Regions from separate parts of the Homo sapiens genome. Here region 2 is linked to region 1. The links come from fine-mapping of genetic effects on gene expression. Tissue or cell type: T cells. Region 1 holds a variant in brackets; the other region holds the start of a gene. All regions are shown on one strand. Distances are between the middles of the regions.

Region 1 (8,105 bases):
GATTGCGTACTGGATAATGAGAAGTAAATATGCCTAATTGAGTGTGTATGGGGAATGAGGTTAATGCTTGGAGGGCTGCATGGGATGCTGGGTTAAACACTGATGTGCAGGAGACCTAATCAGTCTTTTCCTGTTTCTAATTGCTGAGTGCATCCCCCTCATTAAAATCTCATGGTGGGAGTGGGATTTCAAGGTGCTTCTGGGAGCTGTTGGAAAAATGGAAGAAAGTAGTAGCAGGCCGTGGCAGAGTTTATTCTTGAGGGAATGAAGGCAGAAATGGGGTGTATGGGGGTGATTAAATGGGGCCATAGCAGGAAGAATTCTATCTGGTAGTTTCACAAGCTGTCAGGCTACTGGTTTCCTCTTGGTTTGAGGTGGTCTGGTTGGATGTGGGGGACCACCTCAGTAGATGGAGCCATTGATAGCAATATAGTAGGAATATGAGCACCAAGGCCCAGGCATTCAGAGCCATGCACTTGGACCAGTTCTGTGTGTGCATTGTTCATGGACTGAAATTCTCTTAAGAGTTATAGACACAATATCGGGCATGTTTGCATGTGTCTATAGTCCCAGGTACTTGGGAGGCTGAGGCAGGAAGATCATTTGAACCCAGGAGTTCAAGGCTAGTCTGGGCAACATAGCAAGGCCTTGTCTCTTAAAAAAAAAAAAAAAAAAAAAAAAAAAAAAAAAAAGGTGGGGGTGTGCTGGGCGCAGTGGCTCACGCCTGTAATCCCAGCACTTTGGGAGGCCGAGGTGGGCGGATCACGAGGTCAGGAGGTCGAGACCATTCTGGCTAACAGAGTGAAACCCCATCTCTATTAAAAATACAAAAAATTAGCTGGGCGTGGTGGCGGGCATCTGTAATCCCAGCTGCTCAGGAGGCTGAGGCAGGAGAATGGCATGAACCCTGGAAGCGGAGCTTGCAGTGAGCCGAGATCCCGCCACTGCACTCCAGCCTGGGCAACAGAGCGAGATTCTGTACCAAAAAAAAAAAAAAAAAAAGAGAGAGAGGTATAGCACAATATAATCAAACAACAATTCGCTCATACATTCACCATCGAGCATTCATTCATTTAGCAAATGTTTATTGGCCAACTCTTCTGGGAGCTTGCGATACATGGGAGTACAAAATGGCAAAGATCCTTGCTCTTATAGAAATTTCATTTTGGCAGGAGAGACAAAAAATAAATAAGTAGATTATGTAGTATGTTAGAGAATGTTCAGTACACAGAAAAAAGGAGCAAAGTCGGGAGCTGAGGTGTATTTGGGGGTGGCGAAGAAAGGGCCGTGGTAATGGTGACCAAGAGTACCATTAAATATGATGTGGTCTTCCGGGAAGAAGATCTTGTTGAGACAATGAGATTTGAGCTAAGACTTGAAGGAGGTGAGAGAGCATTTCAAATAGAAAGCATAGATAGAAGAAGAACTCCAAGGTGTGATCACATTTAGCGGTCAAGGGATAGCAAAGAGGCAAGTGTGCATATAACATAATGAGTGAGGAGAGGGGAGAAGGACATCAGGACAGAGTGCAGCAGAGTAGAGGTCAGGCAGTGGTCTGCCCCAGAGGCCTAGCTCTTCCGCTGTGTGAGATGGGAGTGAGCCATTGGAGAGTTTTAAACAGATGAGTAACATGATCTGACTTATGTCTTAAAAGGACCAGTCTGACTGCCATGCTGAGAATACACCTTATTAGGGCAAGGGTGGAGGCAAGGAGACTTGTGAGCGACAAATGCCACAGTCCAGGCGCCCTAGACCTGGGCTGTAGCAATGGTCAGGGTGAAGATTGGCCAGATGCTGGAGGTATTCTCTAGGTAGAGACAGCAGGATTTCCCGATAGATTGCATGTAAAGTATGAAAGAAAAAGGAAAGAATAACTTCTGGAGCTGAGCAACTAGAAGGATGGAGTTGCTATCAACCAAGTGGAGAAAACTGCAGGGGGAGTAGACTTAGGAAGGAAGAGCAGGAGTTCATTTGGACATGTCAAGACTTACATGTCTATTACCTATCTGAGAGGACATGTGGCTTGACAGTTTGATATATAAACCTGGAGTTTAGGAGAGAGGTCTGGGCTGAAGATAAGTATTTGAGAGTTGCTGGCATATAGCTAGTATGTAAAGACACTAAGTTGGTTGGGAATGAAACAGAGAAGAGGACCAAGGAATAAGTCATGGGTCTCCAGACAACAGAGGGTGGCAAGAAGAGGAAAAGCAGCAATGATTCTGAGAAAGAGTGATCAGAAAGGAGGGAGGGAAACCGAGTGTGTTGGAAGCCACGTGAAGGAAACATATCAAGCAGAGAATTGCCGACAGTGTCGAAGGCTTCTGACAGGGCAAATACAAAGAGGACCAAGGATAAACCAATAGATTTAGCAACCTGGGTGACCTGACTTTGGAGGGCAGCTTTGGACGAGGACTGGGAGCAAAAGCCTGACTAGAGTGAGTCTAAAAGAAAACAGGGGAGGAATTGGAAGCAGCAATGCAGACAACTCTTTCTTTTTTTTTGTTTTTTTCTTTTCTTTTCTTCTTTTTTTTTAGACGAAGTCTCGCTCTGTCGCCCAGGCTGGAGTACAGTGGCAGATCTTGTCTCACTGCAACCTCCACCTTCCGGGTTCAAGCAATTCTCCTGCCTCAGCCTCCCAAGTAGCTGGGATTGCAGGTGCCCGCCACCACGCCCAGCTCATTTTTGTAATTTTAGTGGAGACAGGGTTTCACCTTGTTGGCCAGGCTGGTCTCAAACTCCTAACCTCAGGTGATCTGCCCACCTTGGCCTCCCAAAGTGCTGGGAATACAGACGTGAGCCACCATGCCCAGCCTACAGACAACTGTTTCTAAAACATAAGCCATTTTTACTATTTCATGTCAGTATTCAGTATCCCCGATTATCTACACATACCATGATTAGATGGTTTTAATCAGTGATCAAATTTTATGTCTGTTTTCTTTTCATACTATATCATAGATATCTAAGGGATGCTATATAATCTTCATATTTGTCTTTTTTTTTTTTCTTCTAGACAGAGTCTTGCTCTGTCCCCAGGCTGTAGTGCAGTGATGTGATCTTGGCTCACTGCAACCTCCGCCTCCCGAGTTCAAACAATTCTCCTGCCTCAGCCTCCTGAATAGCTGGAATTACAGGCATGTGCCATCATGCCTAGCTAATTTTTGTATTTTTAGTAGAGATGGGGTTTCACCATGTTGGCCAGGCTGGTTTCAAACTCCTGACCGCAGGTGATCCTCCTGCCTGGGCCTCCCAAAGTGCTGGGATTACAGGCGTGAGCTGCTGTGCCTGGCCCATATTTGTCATTTTTAATACATCAAAAGGATGTGTCAATACATTTTAACACATAATGGAGGAAGTCCTAGCCAGAGCAATCAAGGCAAGAGAAAGAAATAGAAGATACCCAAATAGGAAAAGAAGAAGTCAAAGTATCTCTCTTCGCTGATGATTTGATTCTATACCTAGACAACCCTAAAGATTCTGCCAAAAGACTTCTAGAACTGATAAATGATTTCAGCAAAGTTTCAGGATACAAAATAAATGTAAAAAAATCAATAGCATTTCTGTAAACCAATAATGTTCAAACTGAGAACCAAATCAAGAACGCAATCCCATTTACAGTAGCCACACA[CA/C]AAAAAAAAATACCTAGGAATACATCTAGCCAAGGAGGTGAAAGATATATACAAGGAGAACTACTAAACACTGCTGAAAGAAATCACAGGTGACACAAACAAATGGAAAAACGTTCCGTGCTCATGGATTGGAAGAATCAATATTGTTTAAATGGCCATACTGCATAAAGCAATCTGCAGATTGAGTGCTATTCATATCAAACTACCAGCATCATTTTTCACAGAATTAGAAAAAACTATTCTAAATTCATTTCGAGCCAGAAAAGAGTCCAAACGGCCAAAGCAAATCTAAGCAAAAAGAACAAAGCCAGAGGCATCATATTATCCAACTTCAAACTATACTATAAGGCTGCAGTATCCAAAACAGCATGATACTAGTACAAAAGCAGGCACGTAGATCAATGGAACAGAATAGAGAATTTAGAATAAAGCCGCACACCTACAGCTATTTGATCTTCAACTAAGTCGACAAAAATATGCAGTGGGGAAAGGACTTCCTGTTCAATAAATGGTGTTGGGATAGCTGGCGAGCCATATGCAAAAGAATAAAACTGGACCCCTACCTTTTACCATATACAAAAGTTAACTCAAAATGGATTAAAGATTTAAATGTAAGACCTCAAACTATAAGAGGCCTAGAAGAGAACCTAGAAAACACCATTCTGTACATTGGCCTTGAGAAAGAATTTATGAGTAAGTCCTCAAAAGCAATTGCAACAAAAACTAAAATTGACAAATGGGACCTAATTAAACTAAAGAGCTTCTGCACAGCAAAAGAAGCTATCAACAGAGTAAACAGAAAACCTATGGAGTGGGAGAAAATATTTGTAAACTATGCATCCAGTAAAGGTCTAATATCCAGAATCTATAAGGAACTTAAAAAATTCAACAAGCAAAAAACAAATAACCCCATTAGAAAGTGAGCAAAACAATAAACAGACACTTCTCAAAAGAAGACATAAAAGAGGCTAACAAACATATGAAAAAATGCTCCACATCCGTGATCATCAGAGAAATGCAAATCAAAACCACAGCGAGATACCATCTCACACCAGTCAGAATGGCTGTTATTAAAGAGTCAAAAAACAACAGATGCTGGTGAGGATGTGGAGAAAAGAGAACACTTATATGCTGTCAGTGGGAATGTAAATTAGTTCAGCCACTGTGGAAAGCAGTTTGGAGATTTTTCAAAGAACTTAGAACTACCATTCAACCCAGCAGTCCTATTACTAGGTATATATCCAAAAGGAAAGATATCACTCTACCAAAAAGACACATGCACTCATATGTTCATCACAGTACTATTCCTAATATCAAAGACATGGCATCAACCTTAGTGCCCATCAGCAGTGGATTGAATAAAGCAGATGTGGTACATATACACCATGGAATACTATACAGTCATTAAAAAGAAAAAATCATGTCCTTTGCTGCAACATGGATGCAGTTGGAGGCCATTATTCTAAGCAAATTAATACAAGGACAAACACTCAAATACCACTTGTTCTCACTTTATTTTTTTGAGAGTGGGAGCTAAACAATGGGTACTTATCGACATAAAAGATGGCAGCAATAGGCACTAGGGGCTACTAGAGAGGGTAGGGAGATGGGGGCAAAGGTTGAAAAACTACCTATTAGGTACTATGCACAGTATACCCCAAACCTCAGCATCATGCAATACATCCATGTAACAAACATGCACAGGTACCCCCTGAATCTAAAATTTAAAAGTTAAATTTTTTAAAAAGGGAAAAATAAAACACATAATGGAAGTACCATAATGCTTCCTATTGCCAACCTTTTGGTTTATTTTCATTTATTATTTTAAATAGCACTCAGGGAAGACTCTTTGTGTATGTTACTTTCTTTGTGATAATTTCCTGAAAATTCATTTCCAAGTATAGGATTTTGAAGTCAAAGTTATAAATACCTTGGGAGCTTTTAGTATATATTGCTAGATTGGTGAATATTTCCAAAAGATTATATCAGCTTGTATTGCCACAAGACATGAGGGTACTGTTTTCCTCAGACCTTCATCAGTATGGGGCTATGTTCGTTTCTTTTGACTTTTGATACATATATCATAGGTTTAAACTCTTACTTCATTGTTTTGAATTTGCACTCCTTTGCATAGTAACAAGGTTGAATATTCTCCAGATGTTTTTAAGAGAATTGCTTTTGTTGTTGCTAAGGCCCTTGGAAAATGCAGTATTGTTAGCGGCGTGGGTGTGTATGCAGTGTGGAGAAAACAGGTGTGTGGCAAGTGTAGGAAGGGATGGGTGTATGGAGAACTCATGAGTGTGCTGCCATGTGTGCTGTGTGGAGAATGTGTATGGCGTGTGTTTGTAGGGAGAGGTTTAGAGCATGGAGCAGAAGAAAGTGGAGAAGTGGTTCTCAATGATGCCTGCACTAGAGCAGATACAAGTTTGGAAAGTAGCTGCTTTTGGAAAGAGGGATATGAGGGAGATGTTTTATGTAGGAAATTTTATAGTGCACTGAATTATTAAGCTATATCTATGTATACTTTTAATTAAAACAAGAACTAAAATGTAGTAGTGGCCAAGATGATCTCAAAGGGCCTGCCAGTTACAAAGTTACCTATTTTGGTAAGATGGACTTGAGGAAGGGTAGTGTCAGCAGAAGGGGCTGGGCTGTCGGAGGACCCCCTCAGGGTGTGACAGTTCAGAACTAACGGCATTAACACAACTCTTTTTTTTATTTTTTTGAGACGGAGTTTCACTCTTGTCACCCAGGCTGGAGTGCAATGGCGCGATCTTGGCTCACTGCAACCTCTGCCTCCTGGGTTCAAGCGATTCTCCTGCCTCAGTCTCCTGAGTAGCTGGGATTACAGGCATACACCACCACACCCAGCTAATTTTTGTATTTTTAATAGAGATGGGGTTTCGCCATGTTGGTCAGGCTGGTCTTGAACTCCTGACCTCAAGTGATCCACCTGCCTCGGCCTCCCAAAGTGCTGGTATTACAGGCATGAGCCACTGCATCCAGCCAACACAGCTCTTTAGAACCATGTAAAGAACTTTTAAAAGGCCCAATGCCCTTGAAGGATAATCTTTTCAACAGTTGTTGGTACAACTGGTATCCATATGGAAAAAAAATAGGCCACCACTTCTACCTTTGCCTCACACCATGTGTAAAACTAAACTCAAAATAGATCATAGACCTAAACATAAAAGCTAAAATTATAAAACATCTAGAAGAAAACATAGGAGAAAATCTGCAAGATTTTATGATAGGCAAAGATTTTTTTGGACAAGTCATAAAAAGCACTAACCAGAAAAGAAAAATTAATAAATTTGGTTTCATCAAATTAAAATCTTTGTTCCTCAAAAGACATTATTAAGAAACTGAAAAGACAAGCCACAGATAAGGAGACAATATTGCAATACATATCTCTAACAAAGAACCATATTCCAAGTATGTAAAGACGTCCTACAACTTAACAGTAAGAAGCAGCTGGCACAGTCGCTCATGCCTGTAATCCCAGCACTTCAGGGTGCTGAGGTGGAGGGTCACTTGAGCCCGGGAGTTCACGACCAGCCATAGCAAAACATAAGGCAGCACAGGGCAACACAGTGAGACCTCATCTCTACAAAAATAAAAATACAGAATCAGCTGGGGCATGGTGGTACATGCCAAGTAGTCCCAGCTACTTGGGAGCCTGAGGCTGGAGGATCACTTTAGCCCAGGAGTTGAAGACCAGCCTGGACAGCATAGTGAGACCCCCATCTCAAAAAAATAAAAAAATAAAATTCCAACGAGGTATCATTACATACCCACTATAATGACTAAAATGAGGAAAAAAATAACAATACCAACTGCTAGCAAGGATGTGGAAGAACTAGAATTCTGATACACTGCTGGTGAGAATGTAAAATGGTACAACCAGTTTGGAAAAGTTTGCCAGTTTCTTATGAAATTCGACATATACTTGCGAAGTATAATCCAGCAATTCTACCCCTGGTATTTTTGTCCAAGAGAAGTGAAAACATGCCCACACGAAGACTTAGAGTATTCATCATAATAATCCCTAACTGGAAGCAAACTAACAATTTATCACAAAGACAATGTGATGTATTCATACAATAGAATATTATTCAGCAATAATAAGAAATGTACAACAGATACAGCAATAGGAATGAGTCTCAAAAACCTTCTGCTTAGTGAAAGAACCAAGGCCCTAAGAGCAAATAACTGTGTGAGTCCATGCATGTGAAGTTCTAAAACAGGCAAACTGGGAGAGGGGGTGAGTAGAGGAAATTGCCTGGGAGCGTCCAGGGGATCATTGGGGTAAAGGAAATACTCTCAGAAATGTAACAAATTGATGCCCACTTCACACTGTAGATCAATTCAGTGGAAATCTCTCGGGTGATTCCAGTGTGCAACCAGTTTGAGAACCAGTTCTGGTGTGAGTTTGTGTGTTGTTTTTGTCTGTTCGTGCACCCATCTATTCTTATT
Region 2 (8,105 bases), 86 kb before region 1:
TGGGGAGGAAAGACAGGCAACAAAGGGAGAAAAGTACCCCTCTTCCCACAGAGACCGCTGAGCCTGTGAAATCCCCTACACCAATCCCCTTGGGGGGTCTTGTGGACAGCACTGGGCAGGCAATGGGGGATCAGGGCACTATCTCCTCCTCTTAGAATTGAGAACCCCACCTCAACTCTGCCCTCTCATTGTCAGCTCAGCTGTGACCAGTTTTAGCATGCCCTCATCAACCTCCATGGCCTCCTCCATCCACTCCAAATAGACGCACAACCCAAACATAAGTAGGAGTTTAAGGAGAGTCTCCTGGCCACCCCACCTCCTTTCCCAACCAGACCATGGCCCTGAAATCTCTCCTTCACAGGCACTCTAAAGCCCACACTGGGAGTCCAGAAGCAAAAACTCACTAGAAGCAGCTAAGTTGATATCTACATGACTACAGAAAAGTCACTTTGCCTCTCTGAATCTCAGTTTGCTCATCTATGAAATGGAACCAGCAGGAACTAGGGCAGTAAATCATTATTCACACAAACTCCATTTCTCTGTTTGTAAAATGAGTAGGCTGTGCAAGACTTGTTTCAGTTGATTTCCCAGCACTGAATTAAGCACGGAGGACCGAGAGGTAAATAAAAAACCATCTCTTCTGCCTCGGCTCTCGTGTTACCAAGGTTTCTTCCACCCTCATTTTCTCTGGCTTAGGACGTGTTTTCCCATCATTGGAAAAAAAGAGTCCACAGTACATTTATGAACCTCAAATAATGCATGACTCAAGAAAGGGGACATTATTGGCTCCATCATAGAACATAACTGTGCATTCCCCAGGATGTGTGGGAGGGACGGCATGAGGTAGGGAGGTAGAGTCATGGAGCAGGAAGCAAAATCTCAGCAGAGGTTCTCAAAGCCTCAGTTTCCCCTGAAGAATGCAGATGCGAACAGGAAACTGGACTTGCTAACATATCTGTTCCTTTGTTTTATATTTAATTTCTCCTCTTTACCATCTTCATGGAATATGTGACTCTGGCTCTCTGAAACACTCTAAAACACGTGTGGATAACGGCCTTTCTTCCCTGCAGTTGCAGTGGAGAAAAGGGTTCAAGTGCGCATCGTTTTTAAAAACAAGACAGCCTGTCTCAGGCTCAGGTGATTCCTCTGGGCCACCGGGATGTGGCCTTTGTCATTAGAAAGGCTTGGCCTGTGGTCACTTCTGCACTGCCCAACACTGCCCAAGCCTGTCTCCTTCAACTCCACACGCGGGCAGCCAGACGCAGCCCCAGGAGGGTGGCCAGGAGAGGGCTGGGCTTCTTGTCTTCAGTTCGGATTCCTGCAGTTCAGTCACCTGTAGAGTAACGTCCAATTCAGCCTATCATGTGGCTGAGCCGGTTTTACCTTTAATCTCTTTCACGTTTGCCCTCAGCCTCGCAGAATGTCCGGGATGATTCACGCGCCATCACATGGGGCAGGCAGTCATCTGTTTTATTACCTCACCCTGCTTGCCGCTTCTGCGAGATAACCTGGGATTCTTTCGTTGGGGGTGGATGGGAGGTAAAAAGAGCGAACAGACCTAGGCCTTAATTCAGGAGTCAATTCCTGCTCTGGTCTCTCTTTCTTGCTTCCCAGGCCAGGTCAAAAGGTCCAAAGAAGCAAGCCATTTGGAAAATGCCAGGGTTTGGGTGGCTGGACTAAAACGAAAGTGGGACTTGGCAGTCTAAAAGGTGTTTTCTCTTCACAATCAATGCCAACCAGTAAAAAGGCTTGGTTGAAAAATAAGGCCAAAAAAAAAAAAATCAGCAATTAGGAGGACTGTTGCAAGCAAGCAGGCATAATTTTCAGAAGGGGAAAGGACGTGGATTTGTGTTTTGAACAGAAAATACTTCAAATGGTCCACATTTCATAGAGGTGTGTCTGCTGCCAGGCACGGTGCTCCGAATGCACCGCACCACAGCCCCTGAGATGAAGGCGTGCTGCTGAGTGCCAAGCCCTCACATTTCTCCTCCTGCTTTGCCCTAACCACAAGCCCAAAGGAGTCCATATTGTTATGTGATTTTTTTTCAAATCAAAGACTGAGACTTCAGTGAAGCAAGCTGCCCAAGGTCACACAGCTAGAAAACCGGGTGGGCTTGGGACCCAAACAGCCTGATTCTAGAGCTCTTGCTTCTCAACCAAAAAACTATGAAGCAAACATCAACAGAGATGAACATTTGTCAGTATCAGTCATGTTCCACATCCCAACCATGGGGAAGTTCTGAGGCTGCAGAGTGATTTAAAAAAGAAAGAAAGTCTCCAATCTGGGTGACAGAGCGAGACTCCGTCTCAAAAATAAAAAGAAAGAAAGAAAGAAAGTCAGCCAGGCAAGGTGGCTCATGTCTGTAAGCCCAGCACTTTGGGAGGCTGAGGTGGGCGGATCACCTGAGGTCAGGAGTTCGAGACCAGCCTGGCCAATATGGTGAAACTCCAGCTCTACTGAAAAATACAAAAATTAGCTGGGCGTGGTGGCGCAGGCCTGTAATCCCAGCTACTCTGGAAGCTGAGGCAGGAGAATTGCTTGAATCTGGGAGGCAGAGGTTGTAGTGAGCCGAGATCATGCCACTGCACTCCAGCCTGGGGGATGGGGGGAGACTCCATCTCAAAAAAAGAAAAAAAGAAAGTATAGGTTAATAACTGAGAACACTGCACTAGAGTCAGACCTAGTCTGTCTTATGAGCTCTGTATCCCAGGCCAACAACAAAGCATCTTGGAGCCTCATCTGTAAAATGGGTATAATAAATAGACTTTCCTATGCCAGAGGGTTGTTATGAAGATTGAGATCATGTATTCAAAGAACCTAGCACCAGGTTGGCTTTGCTTTGGGGCTACTGCTCTAATCAATAGTGGGTTTTTATGTAGTAAAGGCTTGACCCAAACAGAGGAAGTGTAGAGGGCTGTGGGAATTCCCCCATAAAGGAATGGGGAATTCCAACTTTTGGGTGTTGAGGGCCAGTCTGAGGCTGGTGTCCCTGGACTCTGGTGCCTGGTATTTATGGAATGAAGGAGGGCCAAGCACTGAGCCCCGAGGCCTGGCCTCAGGGAAGGAATTAACTATGAAGAAGGCATTTGGAGGCGAGGCTCACTCTGGTGGGTCTTTTCTGTCAAGAGGAGATGAGACCACAAACATGATTCCCTCTCTGGCTCAGCAACACCCTGGTCCATACAGCACAGGGTGCTGGTTCTTCTGGAAGACCGTGGGGCTCAGGCAAGAGAAGACACCCAACTGGGCTTCATTCGACCAGTCCAGCTTCCTGCCATATGCCGAGGGCAAAAAAGGGTTAAATTCCCACTCAGTACACAGATGTAAGAGGAGATGGGGAAGTGAACAGCCAGTTGATCATTCACTCAATCATGCTAGCTTGCTTTTTGTATTTAATGCTACATTTTAAATTTATTTATTTATTTATTTGAGACAGAGTCTCGCTTTGTTGCCCAGGCTGGAGTGCAGTGGTGCGATCTTGGCTCACTGCAACCTCCACCTCCCAGGTTGAAGTGATTCTCATGCCTCAGCCTCCCGAGTAGCTGGGACTACGGGCGTGCACCACCACGCCCAGCTAATTTATTATTATTATTTTTTAGTAGAGATGGGGTTCACTATGTTGGCCAGGCTGGTCTGAAATCCTGACCTCAGGTAATCTGTCTGCCTCACCCTCCCAAAGTGCTGGGATTACAGGCGTGAGCCACCGCACCCACTAATTCTACATTTTTAATTTCTCAAGAAACATTGTGTCTCTGATTGTTTTATTCTCTTGAACATTTTTCAAGATGGAATTTTGCTTTGCTTACTTTCTTCTTTTTCATAGCCCCACTTCTCCCAAATCCATAACACACCTACCTCAAAGTATCACAGGAAAGAAAGCCTGTGAAGCTGCTAGCCACAGCCTGTCACAAGTAAGTCCTCAATTTAGCTAACAATAACAATGGCATTACTATTACTTTTACAAAGTGTTTTCCCTGACACCCTCTGGAAGTCCTCCCAGGAAAGCGGATCCACAGCGCTCCTAATTTTAGGGACCCTGAGGGGAGCCAGCTACATTTCCAAATGGTGGGGAAGGGTGGAGGGTGGGCGAAACGTCGTAGGGAGAGTTGAATAGAAGGAGACAGATGGTGCCTGTGTTGGGGGAAGGGACCAGAGATCCTGGAAAACTTATGTTTCCCAATTCGCAAGAATGTTTCCATTTAACCACTTCTTGCCTGACTCCTGATTCTACACCACAGAAAAGCAGGGAGTTTTTAAGATTTGGGGCCACCTGTGCCGAGAGCCTGGCTACTCCGGGTGGAGAGAGACAGGAGCGTTTTAAGTACAGGCAGAGCGGTTTTTGGCCCAGCCCCCTAGGTCTGGGACGCAGGTGAGGGGCGGTCTCTCCTTCCCCTGGCAGGGGCAGCGTAAGGGTGGCCGGCGGCTGGGACTGTCCCACGAGGGGGCGCGTCTCGGGCCCTAGGACCCGCCCTCGAGGCGCTGCGCGCGGGGAGGGGACCCGGGAACCCAGGCGCCCGGCGCTCCGCCTCCCGTTTCCGGGGCAGCGCGGTTACCTGCACCGCCCGAGCCGCACCTGGCGGAGGCAGAAGTCACAAACCCGGCGAGCTCAGAGCGGTGGAGCGGAGAGGAGGGACGGCACCCGGCTGCAGGGAGGAGGGAGGCGGCAGCGGCAGCGGCGGCGTGGAGGGCGCAGCGCGCCGCGCGGCGGAGGAGGGCAGACGGCGGCGGCGGCGGCGCTCGGCTCGCTCTGCCCGGCCGGCTGGGCGCGCACCCGGGCTCGCACCGCGCCGCTGCGGACGCACATGGCAGCGTGAGAGGCCGGCGGCGGGAGGAGCGGGCGGCGCCGGGTCGGGGCTGCAGGGCCGCATGGACAGCGGCGCCACCCCGGCCGGCCCCTACTAGGGCCCCCCATCTGCGGGCGCCACCCCCCGGATCATGGTGCCTCGGCGGCCGCCCGGGCTAAGAGCGGCCGGCTGGAGCCGCTGAGCCCCCGCTGCGGCCGGGAGCTGCATGGGGGAGCGCCGGCAGCGCTTGGGAAGATGCCCCGGCCGGAGCTGCCCCTGCCGGAGGGCTGGGAGGAGGCGCGCGACTTCGACGGCAAGGTCTACTACATAGACCACACGAACCGCACCACCAGCTGGATCGACCCGCGGGACAGGTAGGACCCTGGAACCCTCCTCCGTGCCCCCACACCCCCGCCTGGGCCCCCACCTGCCCCTGGAGCCGCCGGCCGGGACTGGGAGGGGGCAGGGGAGCTCTGCGTGCCTCTTGAGCTCTCTTCAGTTCGCCACCCCCTGCTCCCCCCAACCTTCTGGAGCGCTGCTCCCGCCTCAGTGGGCCACCGAGAGGAGGCGCCTGCCGGGGAGCTGGCCCAGGCTGCCCCACCGCCATCCCCAGTTGGAGGACTTAGGCCCCAGCCGGCACCTGCCCGGAGTTTTGACCTTAAGCTCTAGCCCCGCCCGCCCCCTTTAGGAAGAGAGGTCGGGCGGGGGCGGGGGTTGGGGGAGCGACCTAGCCGGGTGAAGCCGGGTCTTCCCGGGGAGGCTTCCACCCAGCGTGGGGGGTGGGCGGATGGGGATGGGGAAGTGTCCGGTTAGAGGGGGTGGTCAAGACCCCAGGATTCCGTGGGAGACCACTGGAGAGAGGGCACTCGGCGCAGAGGAAGGCAACCTGAGGTGTGCTTTTTGACAGGTGCCTTGGAAGCTGCTGAGAACAGCACAGGGGCAGCCAGGGGGCCCTGGAACCCGAGGGTGGGGAGGAAGTGAAGAAGCGGGGGAGGGCAGATGAGGGAGACTGGTTATCCAGGAATCTGGCAGCAACTTGGAAGCTGTTAGGATGGAGATGGAGGTGAGAGGCCTCCCGGAAAGCCTTGCCCCTCGCCTCTTTCTCCTCTCTTTCTTCCCTGATCGGGGAAGGGGGCGGCGAGGCTCCTCAGCCCTGCACCAGCGGGACCTGACCTTGGTGGGTACCAGGCCGCTGTAGGTTGAGATAATGTGCAGAGGCAGATGGAGCCTGAGATAGCTCGGTGTGGCTCTTACCTCTCCAGACTTTCTCCTGGTTGTTTGGCATTTCTTTGCTCACATGCTGCACACACACACATACATTCACCCTCTCCATGTATGTCCTAGAGTCCCCGGACCACGATGTTGTTGACACGGTCTGTGGGCAGAGTGTCTTGGGGAATGCGGACTTTAAACCTTGTCTGTGACCTTGGGGGTCAGGTCCCTGTAAAGCAACCAAGGTGAATTTCTTGGACTCTTCATCTTGTGTGGTGGGGGTGGAGGTGTCCCAGAAGTGTATGTAGCAAGATGTGGGTCAAAAAAAGAATATAAGCGGAAAGAAAATGAGAGTTGAGATTCTCGGTAGTTTCTGGGAGCACTTACTTTCATTCATTCATTCATTCGTTCATTCAGCGCTTCCTGGATGCCTCCTCTACACTCAGCACCATGCTGAATGTCTCATGAATGTAATCTGGAAGGTAAATATTTAGTGCTAGAGAGCATCTCTTAGGCAAGCTGCTTCAACCTCTGAGCCTCAGTTTCCCTGTTTGTCAGATGGGGGAGCCCACCATTTCCCTGAATTTAAAAAGTTTGCTTGGAAGGGAATATTGGGATGCTTAAAACTTGGAAGGGACGTACATCAGCGCCCAACTCCCATTTGAAACATAAGAGAAAATTTGAAGCCCAGAGGTGTGATTTGCTCAAGTATTTTGATTTTTCTGCCATTCTGCGTACCAGTTCTTCACCAGCTCTGAAGTTCTAACCTGCAAACTTGTCACCCTGACACACTGCTTCCCCACCCTTACTCGGGTCAGTTGCCAGCTCTGCTACTGTGTTGGTGAACTTGGCAGCACCTTTTCTCTTGTCCTTTTCTCAGAACAGACACAAGTTCAAACATATGTGACCTGCCCCAATTTAGGTCCCTGTAGTTTACGGAGGCCTGTGTGCTGTTAGCAGGTGGACGTCCTGTTGGAGGGAAAGGACCGCCCCTGCCAACACTGATAATCATGCATCTGGGGACTTCTAATACAGCAATAGGAGGCCCCTCTCAACAGTAATTCTTTACCCTTGGAAAAGGGTAAGTAAGTAGCTTCTATGAAGAACTGATTGGCTGGAGCACAATCTCCCAAATTTTAGTGTTACATGGACCACCTCCATGATTTTTTTTTGCTATATCCACCTGTGCTATTGCTTACTTACTCCTTGACTTTAGATCAACTCACTTTAAAAATATGTGTACCATTTTCACAAATGGGAAACTAGTTATATCTATTGTCATACAGGGGAAACAAAAAAGATAGGCAAACAAAAAAAACAAAAAACCAGGGTTAGTATATTTTAGCTAGGTACTGTGGCCAGCCTAAGGCCACAGCACCTCACCTGCCCAGCCTTTGTTTTTAAGCAGATTGGCAAGCCATGGAGAGGCGGCAGAAACATAGTGGCACTTAGGTGAGCAGCTCACCTTCTTCATCTTGTGTCATTGGTTTTTTTGTTTGCTTTTGGTTTTTTTGTTTATTTGTTTTTGTTTTTTGGAGACAGAGTCTCGCTCTGTCGCCCAGGCTGGAGTCCAGTGGTGCGATCTTGGCTCACTGCAAGTCTGCCTCCTGGGTTCAAGCGATTCTCCTGCCTCAACCTCCCGAGTAGCTGGGACTACAGGTGCACGCCACCACATCCAGCCAATTTTTTGTATTTTAGTAGAGATGGGGTTTCACTGTGTTGCCCAGGCTAGTCTTGAACTCCTGAGCTCAGGCAATCCGCCCACCTCAGCCTCCCAAAGTGCTAGGATTACAGGCGTGAGCCACCACGCTTGGCCTTGGGTCACTGGTTTATAAACTTCATCTCTGTACCTCCTTGTCATCCCACCTGGACTGGGGTGGTATTGGGCCCCTGAACTTGGGGTCCTGAGGGGGTCTCATGTCAACTCTGGGGGTCACTATTGTGGTCCAGCTTTGTATGTTTTGGAAAAGTGCTAATTGGAGGATAGCCACTTGTGGTTTTCTGGAATTTCCCTCCGGCATACCCCATTTTTGCCTTTTAGTTCTGTCTGTGTGGCCTTGGGCAAATCACTTGACCTCTCTGAGGTTTGAGTGCTTGAGAAGTGGGTT

What was found. PIP is the estimated chance that this variant, and not a neighbour inherited with it, causes the effect.
Region 2: it holds the start of WWC1, and the variant in region 1 is fine-mapped to the expression of WWC1 in T cells (TOPMed, PIP above 0.99). The same link has a PIP of 0.9 or more in blood mononuclear cells.

What each region holds. Positions count from the first base shown.
Region 1 is chr5:168,373,063-168,381,167 of GRCh38, forward strand. The region is part of intron 2 of WWC1 (WW and C2 domain containing 1); the gene reads left to right. Among named protein-coding and RNA genes, the nearest start is that of WWC1, 85 kb to the left of the region's middle. The variant CA/C (reference allele first, on the strand shown) is at 3,629.
Region 2 is chr5:168,287,113-168,295,217 of GRCh38, forward strand. WWC1 (WW and C2 domain containing 1) reads left to right here and starts at 4,533. Exons shown (of 23, transcript NM_015238.3): 1 at 4,533-5,159. The coding sequence starts at 5,041. RefSeq lists an enhancer at 3,082-3,161 and silencers at 4,306-4,825, 4,926-5,345.